3 linked regions of the Homo sapiens genome follow. The protein of the gene in region 1 interacts with the protein of each later gene in a biochemical or structural test. Each region holds a gene or a part of one and is shown in the gene's direction. Other genes may lie near its edges.

Region 1 (7,870 bases):
GTCTGAGCTAGTGTGATGGTTAATTTTCGGTGTCAACTTCACCGGATTAAGGAATACCCAGAGGACTGATAAAGCATTATTTCTGGGTGTGTCTGTGAGTGTGTTCCCAGAAGAGAGTGGCCTGTGAGTGGACTGAATGGTACAGATCCGCCCTCAATGTGGGCGGGCGCCAGCTAATGGGCTAGGGCCCAGAATGAACACAAAAGGCAAAGAAGGGATTTCCTGTCTCTCTTCCTGGAGCTAGGACACTCTTCTTCTCCTGTCCTTAGACATTAGATCCCCATGCTCTTCAGCCCTTGGACTCCAGGACTTACACCAGCAGCCCCTGGGTTCTCAGGCCTTCATCCTCTAAGCATCACACCACTGGCTTCCTTGGTTCTGAGGATCTCAGATTTGGACTGAGCCACACGACCGGCTTGCCAGGGTCTCCAGCTTGCAGAAGGCCTCCAATGGGACTTCTCAGCCTCCATAATCATGTGAACCAATTGCCCTCACAAGTCCCCTCTTGAATGTGTACATCTATCTATATACTGTATTTATTCTGTCTCTCTAAAGAATCCTGACTAATGCAGCAAAGCAAAACACTGTGCTCAATCACCCAGCAGGTAAGAGGCAGAGCTACCAACCTCCATCTGAACCATTATGCACTGCTGCTGTATCCTATACCATAGTAACTGGATTAAGGGTAGAAGAAACTTGCTCTTTTTGGAACCTCCTCCTCCCCCCAAAACAAGCCTAGCTATACTCAGTGAAAATTATACAGATTAGAGAGTAGGACTTGGCCAGGCGCGGTGGCTCATGCCTGTAACCCCAGCACTTTGGGAGGCTGAGGCGGGCGGATCATGAGGTCAGGAGATCGAGACCATCCTGGCTAACACGGTGAAACACTGTCTCTACTAAAAATACAAAAAAATTAGCTGGGCATGGTGGTGAGCTGTAGTCCCAGCTACCCGGGAGGCTGAGGCAGGAGAATGGCGTGAACCCAGGAGGTGGAGCTTGTAGTGAGCTGAGATCCTGCCACTGCACTCCAGCCTGGGTGACAGAGCAAGACTCCATCTCAAAAAAAAAAAAAAAAAAAAAAAAAAGGAGAGAGAGAGTAGGACTTTCAGATCCATAGCCAACATAAAGCACCCACAAATCTTCATCAGGTACTAAAGGGTATAATAGTGATTACTTCTGTTTATAAGCCCTACTATCAGGAGGTTTACACTGATATTTGTTAATGTTCACAATAAGCCTTCAAGGTAGATGGCATTACCCCACTTTATAGAAGAGAAAACTAAGTTTCAGAGGTCTTCCAAATGATACACAGTGAGGACAAGGCATTGCCGGGTTGTTTGAATTTGCCCCACTCCAACGTTAGTCTTTTCACATGGTTGTTAACCTTCAGGTGGACCTGGGGCAGCATACTGTGGTGAACACAAAATAAACTCCAGACTTCTAGGCTTTCAGAGCAGAAATTACTCTTCCCTACCCTGAGAAGGGCCCCCAAAATAGAAGGCTGCTGCATCACTTAGTGGATACATACACCGCAACCTCAACCACTCTTGGCCTGAGATTACCTTTAGGGTTCTCGCCTGGAAGAAGAGCACATCTCTCCCGCTCAGCCTACTCTCAGGGAAAGCAAGTAAAGATCTGGCAAGCACCCAGAAAGACTGAGGGTTATTTTTTGTTTTGTTTCCAGTGTTTTTAAAATTGTATATAGGTATGGCTACAACATGTTTTGATATACATATGCAGTAACTGTTGATTCTAGTCTAGAAAGGCCATAGATACCACTACCCAGCTCCTTCTCAGACAAACCTTTATCAAAGTTTTATTAGCCTCAGCTCAAGGGATCTCTATTTGGGCATCTCATTACAGGGCAAGGACGCTTCAGCCATTTGTAACACCACCACTCAAGAAGGATCTTCAAGGGTGGCAGTGGAAATGAGTTGCAAAGGAACTGTAAATTCTCCTTGCCCCTTCCCCCCTCTTCATGCAGTTGCTCTCTCAACCCACCTATTCCTTCAAGTCTGACACTGGATTACTCCCATTCCCTGAACACATTTCCCACGTTCTCATCTCTGCTCATTTATTCCACTTCCCTTTGCCTGGAACTTATTCTTCCTTGGCCAAAATCTATCTTCTGCATTGAACTCCAACAGCACTTAATTTTTTCGTTTCTTTTTTCTTTTTGACACGGAGTCTGACTCTGTTGCCCAGGCTGGAGTGCAGTGTGGCGCGATCTCGGCTCACTGTAACCTCCACCTCCCGGGTTCAAGCAATTCTTCTGCCTCAGCCTCCCAAGTAGCTGGGATTACAGGTGCATGCCACCACGTTCAGCTAACTTTTTTATGTTTTTAGTAGAGATGGGGTTTCACTGTATTAGCCAGGCTGGTCTTGAACTCCTGACCTCAGGTGATCTACCCACTTTGGCCTCCCAAAGTGCTGGGATTACAGGAGTGGGCCACCGCACTGGCCTTTTTTTTTTTTTTTTTTTTTTTTTTTTTTTTTTTTTTGAGACAAGGTCTCACTCTGTCGTCCAGGCTGAGTGCAGTGGGGCAGTCGTTGCTCACTGTAGTCTCAATTTCCCAGGCTCAAGCAGCAATCTTCCCACCTCAGTCTCTCAAGTAGCTGGGGACAACAGGTGCACGCCACCACACTCAGCTAATTTCTTTCTTTCTTTCTTTTTTTTCCCAAGACAGAGTCTCGCACTGTCCCCCAGGCTGGAGTGCAGTGCTGCAATCTCAGCTCACTGCAACCTCCGCCTCCTGGGTTCAAGCGATTCTTCTGCCTCAGCCTCCTGAGTAGCTGGGACTACAGGCACACCACCACACCCAGCTAATTTTTGTATTTTTAGTAGAGACGGGGTTTCACAATGTTGGCCAGGATGGTCTCGATCTCTTGACCTTGTGATCTGCCCGCCTCGGTTTCCCAAAGTGCTGGGATTACAAGCATGAGCCATCGCATCTGGCCTATATTTTATATTATATATATATAATTTATGTAGATACGTGTTTTGTTTTCATTTCTGTGGGTAATTTGGAAATCCTCTCCCTTAACCCCTTAAAGAAGGCCTTTAGGTTCTCTAGTTAAAGGGTTCTAAGCTTCACATCCAAAAATCAAGTTTCCAGGCACTCAGAAGACAATTTCCAAATAAACCTTTTTTTCCTTTTTTTTTTTTTTTGAGACGTAGTCTCGCTCTGTTGCCCAGGCTGGAGTGCAGTGGCGTGATCTCGGCTCACGGCAGCCTCCGCGTCCCTGGTTCAAGCAATTCTCCTGCCTCAGCCTCCCAAGTAGCTGGGATTACAGGTATGCACCACCACACCCGGCTAATTTTTATATTTTTAGTAAAGATGGGGTTTCATCATGTTGGCCAAGTTGGTCTCGAACTCCTGGCCTCAGGTGATTTGCCCACCTCGGCCTCCCAAAGTGTTGGGATCACAGGCATGAGCCACCAAGCCGGGCGGAAACTTTTTTTATTGTAGAGATGAGGTCTCATTATATTGTCCAGGCTGCTCTCGAACTCCTAGCCTCAAGTAATCCTCCCACCTAGGCCTCCCAAAGTGCTGGGATTACAGGCATAAGCCACCGCACCGGTCCCCAAAGACTTTTGAAAAGTGTGGGCTCATTAGGAGAACTAATCCAGAAGGAAAAGAGATGGGAGTGAGTGCTTTAAATGGAAGAAGAAAATAATCTGCGGAGGGAAGGGAAAGTTAGAGAGGGCACCAGGCTTTTGATGGCTTATGGGACAAGTAGGGACCTAAGGCTCCACTTGCATATAGCACACCAGGATGTGGAGAACGTCGTAGGCGACTGTCCACTATGTACCTTGCCTTTGAGAGTAGTGGCAAGGGTCTCTTTGAGCAAGTCTGGAGTGGTAGAAGAAGCCATCCTAATGATGCAACCAACGTGGATTAAGGATCTGGTCTCTACCTCACTTTTTGAAGGAAGAAACACTTAATTGGCAATAATGACGGCGAAACAAAACAAACACAATTCAGAAAAAGCAGTAAAATATGTAAAAAGAGCTAAAATGCTGCTTAAGATTTCCCGTACCAACAATGTCAACCGTTTTAGAACCGACTGGAATATATGTAATACTGGAAATATATATACTGGAAACAACTTCTTGTGTTCCCTGATGTCTGGGACCCTTTTCTTTGCTAGACTTCAGATCTCTGATCTGAACCATCCCTCTTAGTTCAAGTACTCCAATCGCCTTCAGTGTTTCCACCAAGCCGTCCTTCCTCAATTTCTCCCTCCAGGTTTCCCTTCCCCAACTTTCCCCCTGCATCAGACTCTCCCTCAGCCTTCCTTTCTCCCTGTGCAGTCTGTCTCACTCCTGTCTTCCTCCCCAGGCGGTCTCAATTCTCTCTCCCTCCCCTTTCCGTGACCCTCTCGGCAGTCTTTTACTTCCTTACTTCGGTGACCGCCCCCCACCCCACTCCCCACAGCCTCCCTCCACTGCTCAGCCGTTGGAGAGGGCGTGGCCCCGCGAGTAACAGGTCTCCCGCCCCACACTCCGCGGGCCCGCGCGCAGACAAAGACATTCCACAGCTCCCGCCCCCTCCACGCCAGAAAGGGGAGGAGACACGTGTTCCGCTAGCGCCGAGTCACGTGGAAAACGAAACGAACGGAGCCCACTGCCTCCCGCGCATGCGCATCAAGCTCTGGCCTGGCGGGAGCGGAGGGAAAGCCAGAGTCGGGAGGCGACTTCTCGGACGCCGCGGCGGTGCGCAGGCGCCGTGGCCGGACTGGGGACTTTGTTCTCCGCGGAGAAACCCAAGGGCGGTGCCGGTGGCTGGCTGCGCACGCGCGCCGCCTCATTTCCGGTGCTCTCTCTCGCTGGGTCGCTCGGGTCGGCTTCGGTCGCTACCGCTCCCGCTCTGCCACCCCCGCCAACCGCCGCTCGGGCCTCCGTCGCTGCCGCGTCGCTTTCTCGCTCCTTGGATCGCACATCCTCCCAGATGCAGCGCCGGGACGACCCCGCCGCGCGCATGAGCCGGTCTTCGGGCCGTAGCGGCTCCATGGACCCCTCCGGTGCCCACCCCTCGGTGCGTCAGACGCCGTCTCGGCAGCCGCCGCTGCCTCACCGGTCCCGGGGAGGCGGAGGGGGATCCCGCGGGGGCGCCCGGGCCTCGCCCGCCACGCAGCCGCCACCGCTGCTGCCGCCCTCGGCCACGGGTCCCGACGCGACAGTGGGCGGGCCAGCGCCGACCCCGCTGCTGCCCCCCTCGGCCACAGCCTCGGTCAAGATGGAGCCAGAGAACAAGTACCTGCCCGAACTCATGGCCGAGAAGGACTCGCTCGACCCGTCCTTCACTCACGCCATGCAGCTGCTGACGGCAGGTAAGGGGGCCTCCCGTGTCCCTCTGGGTCGCCCGGCCATCCCGGGCATGAGTGGCCCTGGCTTTGTTCCTCTCGCTTCCCGCCCCCTCGGGACCGAGGCAGTCGGGAGTTCCGGTCTCATCCTCATTTTTGGGAGCCTGGATTCCACATTCCCACCTCAGCCCGGAGTGCGTGGGAGAATTTCTAGGCTGCAGTGGAGGCCCGAAGGCGACTTTGCGATCCCCTAGCGCTAATGTCTTGATGGATAGTGCTGAGCTCCCCGCCCCTTTCCCGACTCTTCCCTCCTCCCTCCTCTTGCGGCTGCCGGGCGCGCAGATTCTTCCAGAAATGAACCTTCATTTCCCCCTTTCCCTGAAGGGAAACCCTTTTTGATCGCGGGTGGCGATGAGCGCCTCGACCGAGGTGTAGGAGGTGAAGACAGCCAGAGCGGGGAGGGACCGTGGGAGGAAGGGCCGAGGTGAGGTGGGGTGAGGCTGGAATGCCCTGTCCAGTGCCTTGCTGTCGCTGGGGCCGAGCCGGACTTAGCGGTAACCGCAGCTTAAGTTGCTGGGAGGAAGGAGCGATTTATGTGGATCGGAGCTTGAGGTTTCCGAATCAGATTTCCGACTAAGGCTGATAAAATAAGAATTGCTACTGAGCCATTTTACACCGTGTGTTCACTGTCGTTGAAGGAGTGAAGTAACCCTAGAGACAGTGAAATGGGACGATAGGGACTCCCGCGTAGTTCACATGACGTTTCCCAACGAGATGGACAGAAATTGAGAGAAGTTGCATGATGCTTGTACTGAAAGGCTTGGCCTTTTTGTTGCTGTTTTTTACATTTTTGATTCAGTAGTGAAATAGATTAGAAATGAGAGTCTTTGTTCTGTAGGTTAGCGCTCTTTTCCTCATCAGCACTGGCCAATCACCTAGTCGCTCTGATTTTTCCCTAAAGCTGTCTGACTTTCGCTTCTAGTTAAAATATTATTTTAATATTTTTTATGATACCTAAATTTTACTAAGCAAGTAAAAATTCACATCCTTCAACACTGAATGAGTAGTTGGACTCTTTGGCAAGGTTAATATAATGGACAGTTCATTATGAAAATATTATCTCCCTCCCTTTGTTCTCTGTCTCCCAACACTGTAAGGTAAGGGATCTTTACCAGTGTGGTGTTCATCTTTTATGCTTTCTTAAGATAACTGTCAAAAACTGTTGATCCTTAAAAGTTACTTTTAATTTTCAGTCTCCCCTCACTGCTTAACTAAGAGAGTGCTCTTTATTTTTAACTTGGGCTTTCTGGATGTATTTTTTTTAAACCCAACTGAAATTGGAGAAATGTGATTGAGGTTACTGTTGGTTTGGGATGTATGAATTCTTTCTAGCATGGATAAGTGTTAATATATGTTGAGCCTGGCTTTTAAGGTATTTCTGAATTATCTTGCAAGGGGATTGCAGTGAAGTCACAACCCATTGTGCGGAAGTGAGACTTTGAGAAGATAGAATAGTAGTATTTAAGCTCTGGTAAGATCACATGGAAGGGGCAGGCGCGGTGGCTCACGCCTGTAATCCCAGCACTTTGGGAGGCCGAGACGGGCTGATCGCGAGGTCAGGAGTTGGAGACCAGCCTGATCAACATGGTGAAACCCCGTCTCTACTAAAAATACAAAATTAGCTTCGCGTGGTGGCGCACGCCTGTGATCCCAGCTACTTTGGAAGCTGAGGCAGGAAAATCACTTGAACCTGGGAAGCGAAGGTTGCAGGGAGCCCAGATTGCGCCATTACACTCCAGCCTGGGCAACAAGAGCTAAACTCCATCTCAAAAAAGGAAAAAAAAAAAAAAAAGAAAAGAACACACGGAAGAAAAATATAGCTAACACTTAATGTTTGAGGTCTGAGCACTTTACATTAAATATTTAACCTATAAAATGAAATGAGAACTTACTTTTATTATCCTCACTTATACAGATGAGGAAACCAAGACACCCAGAGATTAATAATTTGCCTAAGGTAACAAAATTAGTAAGCATCGTAACCAGGATTTTTGGTCAGTCTACACACCTTCCCCGTTCCCTCACTATAGTGCCTGCTGCAAATTGTACTTTAAGCTATAGTTGGACAAAATATTAAAATCTATCTGGGATGATAGGTGACCAAAAAAAAAAAAGTATATTTGAAAGTATCACAGTGTTAACAGGGCAGTGAAGATGATAAGGCTAAGATACAGAAAGGAAACCAGAGAGCAGAGTCTACTGCTTGGGACTGTGGCTCCTCCAGGCACCTTTGACCATTCCCAATAAGGTACCGTGAGACCCTGAGCACTCTTCCTGTACCACCTACACAGCTCTCCTCTTCCTTTCCTGGGTTTACTTTATTTTTCACTATCAGCATCTGTTGCACTATATTGTCGTTATGTACAGTATTTGTTTGTTGATTACCCATTCTCCATGGCTAGAATGTCAGCTCCACCAGAGCGCAGGAATCTTTTGTCTACTTTGTTCACCGTTGTATCTTCTATGCCTTGAAGAGTGCTGCACAGAGTGGCCTCTTATTAAA
Region 2 (2,899 bases), on another chromosome or scaffold:
TAGTGTTATTTATTTTTTTAATCCCACTTGTATTATTTTACCTCTAGAGCATCTTGTATTAGGACATGTTATATTTATGCCAGTGGGAAATAAGTTATGGCCAAGTTTTGCAAAAACAGGAAGCAGTGAGATACTTGTTTTTTTCTCCTCACTAAATATCAGTAATTGTCAGGAATGGTATTACCTATTTTCATTTCCTCTTTTCAGCTTTAAGTTTTGTTGATTGGGACACTAAAACTGATGTATACCTGAGGAAAAAATAGAATGTGCTCATGGTTAGGGAAAATTATATTATTTTTAATTTTTTAATTTGTTTTTTAACCAAGTAGGAATTTGGGTGTATGGATAAGAGGCCAATCTGCTTCTGTAGGCTATAGAAGAAAACCAGTTGTATTTTATGGTCATAATTTGTCCCCCTATTATTCTGGAGATTTAAATTTAAGTAAAGTAGCCATCAGTATTTTAATTGAAAAATACTAAAGCCACATAACTGAGTAGGATGTCGTATGATACTTTCAACAAATTCCCTAATGCTGCCTAAGCATATGGATGTTTTAATTCTTTGCTGTTATAAATAGATATCTAATACGCCAGAATTACTGATGGTAAAATTGAAGTTGTGTAACTTGTGAATTTTTTTTATCAATGTTTTAAATATTATTTAAATCTTAAAATCATTTAAAGACTTATGTTGCCACTGGGTGGCAGCCATGGCTTCTCCCACTAAGCAACAGAAGTGACCAAATATAATTAAGACAAATTTTCATCTCTATTACATCTGCTTTTAAAACATTTTAGTTCATATTCTATTATTTTTCTAACTCAGTACTCCTTTGTTGAGGGTAATTATTAGTAGTTAAGTTTTTAATGGAAATAAAAATCATGTATGCTTATCTTTGCTGTAAAATCAAATGAATATAAATTGAGGAAAACTTTAAATTGTTGTAGGATGACTAGTAGTAAACATCATCTTAATTTTTAACATATATTTGATGATGCTTTCCTTTTCTCTGTATGTTTCTGGGTTTTCCCCCAGTCTTCCTTATGAAAAAAATGTATGTTTGTAAAAAGAGAACAATTAATGCTTTGCATCACAGACATAAACTATTCATAGTAAACTGCACTGAGCTGATATTAATAGAGCAGACTTTTGAGAAAGTAGGAGTGTAGTAGCACTGGAAACAGAATGCAAATTTCTGTTCCATAATTAGGTTTATTGTAGCTATAGCGCTCCCAGATAACCCATGTGTGCTAGTAATATCTATTGTGTGCTCTTACTATGGTATAAAAACCTCGCTGGAAGCTACTTATTTTGTACTTAAATATTTTACCAATTTTTAAAAAGTCTTAATCCAATGCTTATACCAGTGACTGTTTTTATAATACTTGAAGTAACTTTAAGAACTGAAACAACCCTGGAAAACTCTACATAGCTAGATAGTAACAATACTTGTATAAGAAACCAAGTTTCCTTATTCCCAGCCTGGTGTCTGTATCGTGACACACTACTCTGTGTATGCTTGGTTTTAGACTAGGAGGAGAGTCCTGGGAAGGGCAATATTACAGAAGTTTTCTTCCACATGAGGAGAATGCTTAGTTTCAAATTTAAATACATGTGTCAGATGGAACCCTGCCTAACTCACTTCTACAAATAACTTCCCCAAAATCTTAGAAGGTTTTTTAGAACATGATATAAGCTTTGTGACAAAAACAAATGCCATTGTGTCCCTTATTTAGTCATAAAACCTTAGGATTCAGCTGAATATATATTCACACATGTATATTACACATATATCACTATACAGTTAACACATGCACCTTGCACTATTAGTGACAAATAATACTGCTAAACAAAATAGGCTTCATGCAATCTATTGCCATTGCTAGAAGAATAAATAGGCCTAGCAGATGGGCAACTTGGGTTGTTAGAATAAGGTCATTCTTGCAGAATATGGCACTTAAATTATCTCCAGCTGTAATGTCCTACCATATAATCCAGAGGTTGCATAGAAGCAGAGTTGTCACAGTCTCTGTAGCACGTTTGTGAGAATTCTCTAGGCAGGCCCAGCCCTTCTCTAGAAGTTTGAATTTCACTCCCACCTTGTTGCTGGGGTACCTTCTTCAGGGTACATCTAAACACAGTGGCCTTATACAGAAATGTTGTTCAACCCACACAGTGCTTTAAAAAATTAATTGCCAACATTTAAAAATCAGGGAGTTTCACATAAAATTCAGACTTCTTGTTTCCCTTTAAAAATGAGAAGCTAATAACATGAGTTGAATTCCCACAAGTCAACAATGAGCTGGAATCTAATATGGATGGTCCTCTTATCTTTACCAGTGCACATGGTGAAAAAATTCAAACAGTATAATAAAGTCTTCTTTCAAGTCAAAATATAGAGACGAATCTCTGAAACGTTTTATTTGGGAAGCAAGAATTGTAATTCAGGGCATATACACAGACAGTAGTTTTTGGTATGTCTAAAGAACAGAGAAGATGGGGAGTTTTATTATAAAGAGAAATGTTACGTATGTTTTGAAAGAAAACTCATTGGTTCTAGATAAGTTTTTGGGAGGTGGCAAGCTCTGATTGGTGTGTGACAGTGATAGGTAAAACCAGTCTTAGAGTCACAGCAGGTCATTTCAGCAGCTACTAGGTAAAACTGGTCTTAGGGTTTACAGTAGTCTGTTTAAGTAGCTGGGCTTGTGGAAAACTGAGTTCTTGGAGCAGCTGCTATGTCCTTCATGTACTTTTTCCCCTTAATGCATTGAATCTGATTTGGTTGGGTATGACAATAATTACCCAATTTGTATAATTAACTTTCACACTCCCAACCCTTATCCCCCTAGTTGAGATCTCCAGATGCAGTTTACTCTCCCTGTTTTTCCTATAACATGG
Region 3 (5,835 bases), on another chromosome or scaffold:
GTGAAGTAGCTCCACTTGAGACTATGATTGGGGTTCAGTTTTCCTCCTCAATTAATATCTTGCTCTTAAAAGACAGTGACATCCACAAGATATGTAGCACAAACTACAGACAAGTGTCCTTCAGATTAACTGAACCATCATTATTTTCCAAATTAATCCCTAAGTTTTTAACTATTTGGCAAGCATGTAACCAATTTGTTGGGCTGACTTAAGGGTGCTGACTTTAAGTAAATGAAAATACCAATTATTAAATGAAAAGCCAATTTTTGAAAAATGTCCGTATAAGATAATATGTGGTAAAATTATTTTTTTCATAAATATACTACAAGTTGAAGCTGAAAGCATGCTACCCTGCAAACATAATTAAAGTTGAGAGTTAGGATTAGATTTGGGTGATTTATTTGAAATGTGAGGCAAGTCCAATATCCTTTTGTTATTAAAGAGAACTTGGCTGTGGCTCCTACTTAACAAATTTTGGCAAACTGAATGCTGTCTTGATCCCCTCCATGCTAAATTTATTTATTGAGTTGCTTGCAGAAATTTCCTTAGCTTCTATATTAGTTGGCAAGGGCTGCCATAACAATACAACACACTGGGTAATTTAAACAACAGACGTTTATTTTTCCGGGGTTCTGGAGTTTCAAAGTCCAAGGTCAAGGTGCTAGCCAGGTTGATTTCTCCTGAGGCCTCTCTCCTGGACTTGTAGATGGCTGCCTCCTCCCTGTGTCTTCACATGGTCTTTCCCCTATACTAGTCTGTGTTCTAATCTCCTCTTATAAGGATACTAGTCATATTGGATTAAGACCTACCCAAATGGCCTCATTTTAACTTAGTTACCTCTATAAAGGCCTTATCTCTAAATATGGTGCTGTCAATTCTGAGGTGTACGCGGGGTTAGGACTTCAACCTAGGAATTTTGGGAGGATGCTGTTCAACCCCTAACAGCCTCAGTAAAGCTTGTTTCAATCATGGTTACAGGATGTGAGGAGCAAAAAGACCACTGCAGTGCTTGACCCTCTGCCAGGTTTCTAAACGGCATGGGTTTCTGTTCTTTTTGTTTTTTTCCACCCTAGGGAGAACTAATGCCGACGTGATGACCGCCCTGTCCCAGGGCTACAGGATGCCCCGTGTGGAGAACTGCCCAGATGAGCTCTATGACATTATGAAAATGTGCTGGAAAGAAAAGGCAGAAGAGAGACCAACGTTTGACTACTTACAGAGCGTCCTGGATGATTTCTACACAGCCACGGAAGGGCAATACCAGCAGCAGCCTTAGAGCACAGGGAGACCCGTCCATTTGGCAGGGGTGGCTGCCTCATTTAGAGAGGAAAAGTAACCATCACTGGTTGCACTTATGATTTCATGTGCGGGGATCATCTGCCGTGCCTGGATCCTGAAATAGAGGCTAAATTACTCAGGAAGAACACCCTCTAAATGGGAAAGTATTCTGTACTCTTAGATGGATTCTCCACTCAGTTGCAACTTGGACTTGTCCTCAGCAGCTGGTAATCTTGCTCTGCTTGACAACATCTGAGTGCAGCCGTTTGAGAAGAAAACATCTATTCTCTCCAAAAATGCACCCAACTAGCTCTATGTTTACAAATGGACATAGGACTCAAAGTTTCAGAGACCATTGCAATGAATCCCCAATAATTGCAGAACTAAACTCATTTATAAAGCTAAAATAACCGGATATATACATAGCATGACATTTCTTTGTGCTTTGGCTTACTTGTTTAAAAAAAAAAAAAAACTAATCCAACCTGTTAGATTTTGCAGGTGAAGTCAGCAGCTTAAAAATGTCTTTCCCAGATTTCAATGATTTTTTTCCCCCTACCTCCCAAAATCTGAGACTGTTAAAACATTTTTCTTCTATGAACACTGCTCAGACCTGCTAGACATGCCATAGGAGTGGCGTGCACATCTCTCTCTCTTCCAGCAGGAGGAGCCCGTGAGCACGCACAGCTGCCCTGTCTGCTCACCCGAAGGCACCGGGCTCACCTGGACCTCCCAGGAAAGGGAGAAGAGCCTCAGAAACTGCTCTGTGTTTAGAAGGAATATTTTTAAGAGTCCAGCTTTTTCATTTCCACAATTTCCTATATCCAGATTTGTTTTGACAATGTAGTTTGGAAGAACTAAGATTCTAATCTCTGAAGAACCTTATAGGGCCTTCTAAAACATAAGAGTTTCCTTTGTTGCTTCAAATATTTGAACATTATGTTAAAGATCAAGTATTAATTTTAGTTGTACTCTAGAAAGCTAAAGTGCCACATTCGGGGCTATTTTTATGATTCAGCAATCTTTTCTAAATTGTGTAGCATGTGTATGAGACTATTTATACCCAAGGATATGAAGGAACATAAGTGACTACAAGGCTCTAATAAGCCACGGTGGCAGGAGGTTCAAGCGGTTCTGTTCACTAAATTTTTCTCCTGTAAGCTTTGAATGGAAACTTCTGTATCACATGATGTGTTTCACTTATGCTGTTGTGTATATACCTAATATTTCTATTTTTGATTTTATTTTAATACACCTCGTCCAATAACATCTCAAGCTTTTTATTTGCATTTACATTTTCAGCTGTGGTCAGTGTAAAAATTGGTCATCAGCTGGGGGCGGGGTGGTTAGAAGTGATTCAACAGAGCTACATGCTTTAAACTTGCCCAAGTTCTACCTCCTTCCTTTGAACATTTCAGATTGGAGAACCAAGGAGTTGATTGCCTGAACACCTGAACATCCGTTTATGGGGGCCAGATAGAATTTGTTTTCAAATAGGCTTAACAGGCATCATTAAAATTTCATTCTGTGTGTTTTGTTTAGGCTTGAGGTGCTTAGAAGATGGGATAAAATATTCTACTTTTTTCTAAATTTTAACTTTGTTTCCTATGTGATTTTTTTAAATGTCCTTTCTAAAATATTCTAAAATTATTGATTCACAAGTGCCATGTTCAGAACTATAGAATATTACTGTTACATAATGTCTGCACAGCTGGTCCCTTGATTCAGTGGTAAGGTTTTTGTGTACACCCCCCTGCTTGCATTTTATTTCAGAACCACAAGTATTACCCAATATGTTACATGGAGAGGAACTATAAAGAATCCCTAAGGCAAAAAGAAGTCTCTAGAAAATGACTAGAGGTTTTTTTTTTAGCATAACAAATTTATTTAAAGAAAATTATTAAATTTATCTTCGCCTTGTTTTGCTTCTCCCAGTTCCTCCTCTTCTTGCCATTTTCCACTTGTCTTTCCCTCCCAATCAAGCCTGTGATCCTTACCTCCATGTGGGCCCTTCACCAGCTTGGGCCTCATCTCTGGTGTCCAGCATGTGTGGAAGTCACACGTTCCCTTGATGAACAGCACACACAGTCTCCTTACTTAGCTATAGGTTTCCAGCCTCCCTGTGACAGACAGGCATAATGAGGGGCTGAATAGGTGTTTGTAGCATTTTCGGGTATCCAGTGGTGTGCAAAATGGCTCATGTCATCACACCTCAGGTTATTGTAGAGAACTGGAAAGACAGAATCCATACTCCCTACCGCCAAGATTCTGACTTAGCTGTTGTGCAGCGGGAGATGTATGTCAGTCTATTTTAAAAGCTTCTCCAGTCAGCTAGACACAGTGGCTCATGCCTGTAATCTCAGCACTTTGGGAGGCTAAGGCAGGAGGATCGCTTGAGCTCAGGAGTTAGACACCAGCCTGAGCAATATAGCAAGTCTCTACAAAAAATTTTAAAAATTAGCTAAGTGTGGTGGCACATACCTATGGTCCCAGCTACTCAGGAGGCTGAGGTGGGAGGATTGCTTGAGCCCAGGAAGTCAAGGCTGCAGTGAGCTATGATCGTGCCACTGCACTCCAGCCTGGGCAAGAGTGAGACCCTGTCTCAAAAAAAAAAACCAAAAAAACAAAAAAACCCTTCCCTGGTGAATATAATGTATGCTCAGTCTTGAGAGTCACCATTTGGTTTGACCCATATTACAAAGCCCAGCCTTCTTTTTCCTCAGATGGTTTCATTTCTCAAAGGGGAGTGGAAGAGAAGGAAGGAGGAAAAAAACGTGCCTTCCTTCCTGGTGAACATGAAGCTCACTGAACCTAAAGGAGACTCACAGGCTAGAAACCAGTGTCCTTAGTAGTAGGGGCCACCTGGGGCTTCCGTGGCTTCTCCAGGCATACCTCCTGAGGTTCCACAGAATCCCCTTGCAGAAAGTACTTCTGATGAGCCACTGGGAACGTGTACTGTCCAAGCCCCCTTCTAGGGGAAATTCACTGCCACAGAAGCCAGCAGCCCTGGCTGTCCCAAGGGTGCATAAAAGGATAATAACTAAAAGGAGGGAATTAATTTTGTTGCCTACACCAGGGATAGATCGAGGGCACTGAAAGCATCATAAGTATAAACTCATCTCCACGTCAGCTTGTGGAGTCTGCTTTCTCGCTCTCTCTTTTTTTTTTTTTTTTGACAGAGTCTCACTCTGTCACGCAGGCTAGAGTTGCAGTGGTGCGATCTCAGCTCATTGCAACCTCCCCCTCTCTGGTTGGAGCGATTCTTCTCCTGCCTCAGCCTCCCTAGTAGCTGGAACTACAGGCACACACCATCTCGCCTGGCTAATTTTTGTATTTTTAGTAGAGATGGGGTTTCACCATGTTAGCCAGGCTGGTCTCGAACTCCTGACCTCAGGCGATCCGCCTGCCTCGGCTTCCCAAAGTGCTGGGATTACAAGTGTGAGCCACTGTGCCCGGTCGGGGTCTGCTTTCTCTTTATTCCCCGTCCTCTCACAAACTACATCCAGGGGCGGTAGCTGCTAAAAGGACTCAATTCTGCAACCTCAGCTTCTGACACCTTCAAATAAATTAAATGCTGGTCCTAGGGCTCGCTCCCCAGCTCTTCTGATGTCACTGCCAGGTTCCACAGCCAGTTGTCGGACATCTCCTGCTTCCTCAGCCAAGAACACCTCTCAGATGAGATCAAACCGCCCAGCTTTCCTCTTAGCATCTTCCTTTATTTTCCACTTCTGGCTGGTGGAAGAGAGATCGTAGTTCTCTATTCCCTACATTTTAACTCCACGAATATTTTAGATTAAGTGAAGTCTTGCTGTTCTTCCTGATGGAAATGGTAATTATAAACATACAAAGATACCCATACACACATTCTTTACTCAGGGCCCTCTTGTGCTTTGGCAAATGATAAAAATTATCTCTAACTCACACAACGACCCTGGAAGATCTGGACAATGCTATCACTATTTCACAGCTGAGAGATCGGGAGCATTTAAAGCCACAGAAGGAATAGATTGGCTTCGCTTCATATTGTTTCCTTGTGAAATAAAACCAGTGAAACACCTTTGTGTAGAATCTCCCTGACTCAGCTGAGTGTTCTGAGTAAGCAAGGGTATTACTTACAAGATGCACCATTTGAGCCCACACAGATGGGAGGGGAAATTTTTCCTTAAGTAATTTTATTTGGGTAGAAAAGTAATGCAAGAATTTAACTTACCATTCACACTTTTAAAGACAATTTGTAGAGACTACACTTCAGAATAAAATGTTTTGGCCAGCTACAGTGGCTCACACCTGTAATCACAATACTTTGGAGGGGCTGAATCAGGACGATCACTTGAGGCCAGGAGTTTGAGACCAGCCAGGACAACATTATGAGACCCTGTCTCTACAAAAAAAAAAATTAAGTTTCAGTAGCATTTATGTTCCATTTCATAACATGAATGTTACTAAAACTGATAAAAATTTTATCCTGAAAAGTTTTAACTTGATAGACGTGTAAGAGGAAAGCCTTCCAATTTAATTTCCTGTGTGCTGATAAATCTATTAAATACTTCAAGTCAG

What was found. Proteins that work in one complex are often made in the same cells at the same time.
Region 2: the proteins of KHDRBS1 (region 1) and NCK1 form a complex in vitro, tested with the Homo sapiens proteins (3 studies listed by BioGRID, with this or other methods).
Region 3: the proteins of KHDRBS1 (region 1) and LYN form a complex in vitro, tested with the Homo sapiens proteins (3 studies listed by BioGRID and IntAct, with this or other methods).

Annotation. Positions count from the first base shown.
Region 1 is NC_000001.11:32,009,044-32,016,913, forward strand, and holds the start of KHDRBS1 (KH domain-containing, RNA-binding, signal transduction-associated protein 1), read left to right. Parts: upstream 1-4,824; 5' UTR 4,825-4,952; coding exon 4,953-5,334; intron 5,335-7,870. UniProt on the Homo sapiens protein: Recruited and tyrosine phosphorylated by several receptor systems, for example the T-cell, leptin and insulin receptors. Once phosphorylated, functions as an adapter protein in signal transduction cascades by binding to SH2 and SH3 domain-containing proteins.
Region 2 is NC_000003.12:136,949,208-136,952,106, forward strand, and holds the end of NCK1 (SH2/SH3 adapter protein NCK1), read left to right. Parts: 3' UTR 1-2,399; downstream 2,400-2,899. UniProt on the Homo sapiens protein: Adapter protein which associates with tyrosine-phosphorylated growth factor receptors, such as KDR and PDGFRB, or their cellular substrates. Maintains low levels of EIF2S1 phosphorylation by promoting its dephosphorylation by PP1.
Region 3 is NC_000008.11:56,008,835-56,014,669, forward strand, and holds the end of LYN (tyrosine-protein kinase Lyn), read left to right. Parts: intron 1-1,073; coding exon 1,074-1,276; 3' UTR 1,277-5,335; downstream 5,336-5,835. UniProt on the Homo sapiens protein: Non-receptor tyrosine-protein kinase that transmits signals from cell surface receptors and plays an important role in the regulation of innate and adaptive immune responses, hematopoiesis, responses to growth factors and cytokines, integrin signaling, but also responses to DNA damage and genotoxic agents.